2 separate regions of the Homo sapiens genome follow, and region 1 is linked to region 2. A link means that fine-mapping ties the variant in region 2 to the expression of a gene that starts in the linked region. Tissue or cell type: transverse colon. Region 2 holds a variant in brackets; the other region holds the start of a gene. All regions are shown on one strand. Distances are between the middles of the regions.

What was found. PIP is the estimated chance that this variant, and not a neighbour inherited with it, causes the effect.
Region 1: it holds the start of LRRK2, and the variant in region 2 is fine-mapped to the expression of LRRK2 in transverse colon (GTEx, PIP 0.95).

What each region holds. Positions count from the first base shown.
Region 1 is chr12:40,223,683-40,226,491 of GRCh38, forward strand. It overlaps LRRK2 (leucine rich repeat kinase 2), which reads left to right and starts at 1,315. Exons shown (of 51, transcript NM_198578.4): 1 at 1,315-1,600; 2 at 1,873-1,958. The coding sequence starts at 1,450. It overlaps LINC01779 (long intergenic non-protein coding RNA 1779), which reads right to left and starts at 1,221. Exons shown (of 1, transcript NR_186584.1): 1 at 1-1,221. It overlaps LRRK2-DT (LRRK2 divergent transcript), which reads right to left and starts at 140. Exons shown (of 9, transcript NR_186757.1): 1 at 1-140. RefSeq lists a silencer at 1,081-1,440 and an enhancer at 2,639-2,728.
Region 2 is chr12:40,249,450-40,252,468 of GRCh38, forward strand. It overlaps LRRK2 (leucine rich repeat kinase 2), which reads left to right. Exons shown (of 51, transcript NM_198578.4): 8 at 377-496; 9 at 1,783-1,925; 10 at 2,016-2,095. Among named protein-coding and RNA genes, the nearest start is that of LRRK2, 26 kb to the left of the region's middle. The variant C/T (reference allele first, on the strand shown) is at 1,252.

The DNA.
Region 1 (2,809 bases), 26 kb before region 2:
TGAAGTCCTGGCTCTCAACTTCCCACCTGTGTGACTCCAGCAAAGCTCTTCACTTCTCAATTCCAAATCTCAATTTCCTCACTAGTGAAAGAAGGATACATAGTAGTAGTTGTATCCATTTCAGAATTGTCATCAGGATTGAAGTAACAGATGTGAAAACAAAACTAAAATTGTGAAGTAGTAACTTCCAGTCCAATCCTCTTCTTTGTAAGTGATCTTGAGGACAGACACATCACCTGAAGGATAGATCATCTTTGCCTAGCCTTGTCTACAATGTTCTTGCTAGGTTTCTTTTCCTAAAAACACATTACTTAGGTACTTAACAGAACAAACAAACAAACAATCAAAAGACAAAACCAAAAAACTTTGGGGTTATAGACACCCATACTCATAAGTATTTCTGAATACCAAGAGAAGAGTATTTAGGTTTGCTTCTCTCAACTTTTCACCTTTCATTTCATGTACCCTGTCCTTTGTCTCAGCTCTAATAGCTCTGAGAGCTGATTACTTTTCGGGTGTCCCAAGTATCAGGATCCTGCCTAGTGCAACTCAAATTTCCAAAAGTTAATTTAGTGGCCTTTTGGTGACCAGAGCTTCAGATAACTCACAGGGAAACAATGTTTATTTCCTCTCCCACTAACAGTCACAAAAAATCATAAAAAAGAGTAGCGGGGGCAGTTTTGATGGCTAACCCCTCTTTCCATCCTTTGGGGGAAAATTGCTCATCTCCCTATAGGTGGAACTCTAAAGACAATGTATTCCTAAAAGGGGCCATCTGGGCGGTGTCCTCTTTTCCCAGCGCCCTGATTTCTATTCTTAGATCTGGAGATAGGCGGCTTTCATTTTTCCTGCTCCCAGTTCCCAGACCTTCCGTGGGGCCGCAGGATCCCCGGCTGGCGGGTCGCGGAGGGTGGCCGGCCGGGCTGCGCACTGCGCGCCTCCGCTGCGGGGCTCCGGGCCTGTGGACTCAGCGGAGTCCGCTGAGTCAGTTTCTTCCCGCGCGACTCCCGGCCGCGCCGCCGCTGCGGTGGAATCTGGTCCCAGGAGGCGGCGTCCGCCCGGGGTCCGGTCTAGGCGTGCGTGGGGGCCACGGTCACGGTCATCCCAGCCAGGCCCGGCTCCAGCAGCCCCACGGCCGCCGCCAGAGTTCTGCGCGGCCCGTCGCCTCGGCGGAGCCTCTGGCAGGCCCCTGAGCTCGTTTTTGGGGCCTGAGTGGGGGAGGAGGAAGCCGAGCAGGAGGGCTCCGGAGAGGGAGGGCAACGCGGGGCGGGGAGCTGCCTCCTTCCTCATAAACAGGCGGGCGTGGGCGCCGATGGGGCCCGCGGGGAGCGCTGGCTGCGGGCGGTGAGCTGAGCTCGCCCCCGGGGAGCTGTGGCCGGCGCCCCTGCCGGTTCCCTGAGCAGCGGACGTTCATGCTGGGAGGGCGGCGGGTTGGAAGCAGGTGCCACCATGGCTAGTGGCAGCTGTCAGGGGTGCGAAGAGGACGAGGAAACTCTGAAGAAGTTGATAGTCAGGCTGAACAATGTCCAGGAAGGAAAACAGATAGAAACGCTGGTCCAAATCCTGGAGGATCTGCTGGTGTTCACGTACTCCGAGCGCGGTAATCACTTGAAAATAAACTGTGCTTTTATTTTTGCAAACTTTCTCCCCCTCCTTACATTTGCAAATTTTGTCCTCCTCCCCTTGACCCTGCTCAAACCCGGACTCTTAAGGAGCCGCAAACTCCCATATCCTTTCCTTAGGGCAGAAAGCAGCTGAGAATTTCAGGAAGGTCTTCACCTTTTTGACTTTTCTCCCCGTTTCAGACTAAAAAGGAGAGGGGGTGCTGTGGATTGTGACTTTGCTTCTTTTCCCCACCCACTTGTTTTCCAGCCTCCAAGTTATTTCAAGGCAAAAATATCCATGTGCCTCTGTTGATCGTCTTGGACTCCTATATGAGAGTCGCGAGTGTGCAGCAGGTAAAGGCATTGTTTTCACTTCAACTCATTCTCCCTTCTGTTTGGAAGGAGACGTTTTACTGGCAATGTTAATATAGCCGAGAGTTCTTGGTTATTCCCAAAATTTGGCTTGAGGAACCTCTGACTGTGATTTTAAGATGGGAATATTGTTAAATCATTACGCAATGTAAACGGGATGAAGAGCCCCAGTATGTGTTCCCTGAGTGTCTTTAAGAAGTAACTTTATAAAACCAACAGTATGGATGGTGGTAGAAGGAGGATAAAAATGGGTTCGGTTTTAGTCTCGTTATTGGCAAGATGAATTCATTAGTGTTTAGACTTGACTATTCCAAGTATCTTCCCAATACAGAGCATGTCCTAGATGAGAAGATTATGAATAGTTTGGAAAAGGGGAATAATTAATAGTGATAAAATGCAACTTTGTCACTAGCAAACTCTTGTAGAGTTCAGCACTTTTTAAAATTCAAAGATTTCTAGCCTTTAGTTGTAGTATACCTTGTAGTATCTAAAGAAAGTGATGTCTTATGAGACCCTCATAGTTTGCAACTGTTGTCATATAAAATGCATGTAGAAGTGAAACTTTTACAATCTGTACCATAGGAAACCCAGAAATTTGCTATGTATCTTGGATTTTTTTTTAAAGGGGGCCTTAAAAATGGTAATTAAGAATGATTTACAGTCAAAACAAAATTATAGGCCAAGGTGATAACTTCCTTCGGAGCACTTAGAGATTTGGGGAACTGAAATCAGTTTTGTCATCTGCATGTTAACTCATGCAGAGAAAGAGAATTGGACTTTGAACTCCTTGGAGGTGCAGTCAGAAAGCCAATGTTTCTTAATGGTTGAGAGGC
Region 2 (3,019 bases):
CAAAAGATGGATTTAAGAGTTTCAACTTTAAAAGACAGAAAAATTAAGTTATTTTACACAATGAATATTGTCGTGCCGTGTGTCACAGACATGACATGAGAGGGAATCAGAGAACATACAGTTAATACAACGCAAACTAGTATCATTACTTTTGCTCAATCACTTCCATTGTCTAAGTAAGATAATTAAAGGACAGCATAAAATAAAATTTCAAAACTTTACTCAATCATATTAAGCTATTTTAATTAAAGTAAATGTTTTAATGCCATTGAATATTCATCACCATTCAAAATTATTGATGTAAATAGTGTTATATGTTAAAGGTAATTTAACTTCCATGGATGAGAATTCAGCTAATGTTTCACTTAACTTTTAGGTAATTTTTTCAATATCCTGGTATTAAACGAAGTCCATGAGTTTGTGGTGAAAGCTGTGCAGCAGTACCCAGAGAATGCAGCATTGCAGATCTCAGCGCTCAGCTGTTTGGCCCTCCTCAGTAAGTAACTTCACTAAAAAGGGGATTCTTACAGAGGCATTTGACATCAAATATGAACATTGTAACAAGAGAATCATATGTACAGATGGAAGCATTCAATGCCTTTTCTGTCCTGTGTAGCTCATTTTCCAGTAGAGGATACTTTCAAGGAAACTAACAGTTGTGACAAATATACACATCTCAATGTAGAGTTTTGCTTTACATCATTCTTGATTTAGCTTTGTCATTAAGCAGCTAATCTGTTTTAAAAAAATTTTTATTTGTGCCTGGGCATGGTGGCTCACGCCTGTAATCTCAGAACTTTGGGAGGCCGAGGCGGGTGGATCACAAGGTCAGGAGTTCGAGACCAGCCTGGCCAACATGGTGAAACCCCATCTCTACTAAAAATATAAAAATTAGTCTGGCATGGTGGCGGGCACCTATAATCCCAGCTGCTCGGGAGGCCGAGGCAGGAGTATCGCTTGGAACTGGAGGGTAGGAGTTGAAGTGAGCTGAGATTGTGCCACTGCACTCCAGCCTGGGCAACAAGAATGAAACTCCATCTCAAAAAAAATAATTTATTTGTGTTTTAAGTTCTGGTGTACACGTGCAGGATGTGCAGGTTTTTCACATAGGTAGACGTGTGCCATGGTGGTTTGCTATACCTATTAACCCATCACCTAGGTATTAAGCCCAGCATGCATTAGCTATTTTTCCTAATGCTCTCCCTTCTCCAGTCCCATCCCCTAACAGGCCCCAGTGTGTATTGTCCCTCT[C/T]CCTGTGTTCATGTGTTCTCATTGTTCAGCTCCCATTTATAAGTGAGAACACGCAGTGTGTGGTTTTCTCTTCATGTGTTAGTTATCTGAGGATAATGGTTTCCAGCTCCATCCGTGTCCCTGCAAAGGACATGAGATAATTCCTTTTTATGGCTGCATAGTATTCCATGGTATATATGTACCACATTTTCTTTATCTAGTCTATCATTGATGGGCATTTGGGTTGATTCCATGTCTTTGCTCTTGTGAATAGTGCTGTGATGAACTAATCTTTTCAAATAATCCTCCTCTCGTCTATTAGGTTTTTTTTTTTTTTGGTACCTTCTTCCTCATTTTATTATTTATCTGGATAGGATGGTAGCATTATGAGACGTATAATATATTAAAAATTATCTTTATAATTGACCAAGGCTTCTCCTAAAGCACACCTCATTCTGTTGGTAATATTTCAAAATATGGACTTAGAGTTGGTCAAACTGTTAAGTAGATAATATATATAATGTTTTTATATATTTTTCAATTTTTTTCAAGCTGAGACTATTTTCTTAAATCAAGATTTAGAGGAAAAGAATGAGAATCAAGAGAATGATGATGAGGGGGAAGAAGATAAATTGTTTTGGCTGGAAGCCTGTTACAAAGCATTAACGTGGCATAGAAAGAACAAGCACGTGCAGGTAGGACTCTCATAAATATTAGAGTTATTCAAAATTATGTTTTCCAGTCATTTATATTTTGACAGATTTCTTTTTTCTCCCCTAATCCAGGAGGCCGCATGCTGGGCACTAAATAATCTCCTTATGTACCAAAACAGTTTACATGAGAAGATTGGAGATGAAGATGGCCAGTTAGTAGTTTTGATTTTATATGATAGAAAATTTCAGTTATATTTTAAATCAATACCTATAAAATACCTTAACCGTAACTTTTATTGTTAGAAATATTTTTGATATAGGCATTTAGTTTTAGATGTTGCTGCAAAATAGTAGTAGGTATGTAGTATTTTGATCTCATCACCTTCAGGAGTTAGAAAAGGTAGAATGAGAGTTATTATTGAGAGATTTGGAATCAAGGGTCATTTGGTAATTCATGAATCATGGAGAAAGAATCTTTCTATTTTCTGGCTGATCGTTTTAAAATGCCATATTAATTCATCTTGGGTGATAGAAATTGCAGAGCCATCTGTGATCTTTTCTTCTATGGTGACTAGCCAGCAGGTTGTCAATATCAGAAATTAGATTTGGTTAGAGAGCTTCCTATGATGAGTTCCCAACTGATGTGACAGAGTTGACCTGTCTTCTTTCGAGAGGGTTATTTGAAGCTGTCATCTCTGGATAACTCTTTCAATAGGAGTGCCATTCAAACATCATAAGACCGGCACTCTCTCCCAAAGATACAAGCTGTAGCAAGGAGTTTTGTGCATATCAGGTTTGTTTCATATCCGTGAGCCTTTGTGTTTTATGGCAACTGATTGATTATACTTGTGCTATTTGCAATGGGTATCCTCTGGGTTTTAAATAGTGAATGACTTATTTTGGAAACAAATAGTAGTATTCTATGTCTGAAATCTTGACCGTCTATTTGTTTAATTATCTATTGCTGATAAGAAGGGAATTAATAACACAGATGCTACTTAATTAAATATTTTCATTTTGACAAGAAACAGTAATTCTTTTGAAAACTATGCTAAATTGGCATCTTAATAATCTCATGTTGAGCAAGGCTTTTGGAGATTAGGGTAAGGGAGATTCATGTCGCAGTTTATAAATTT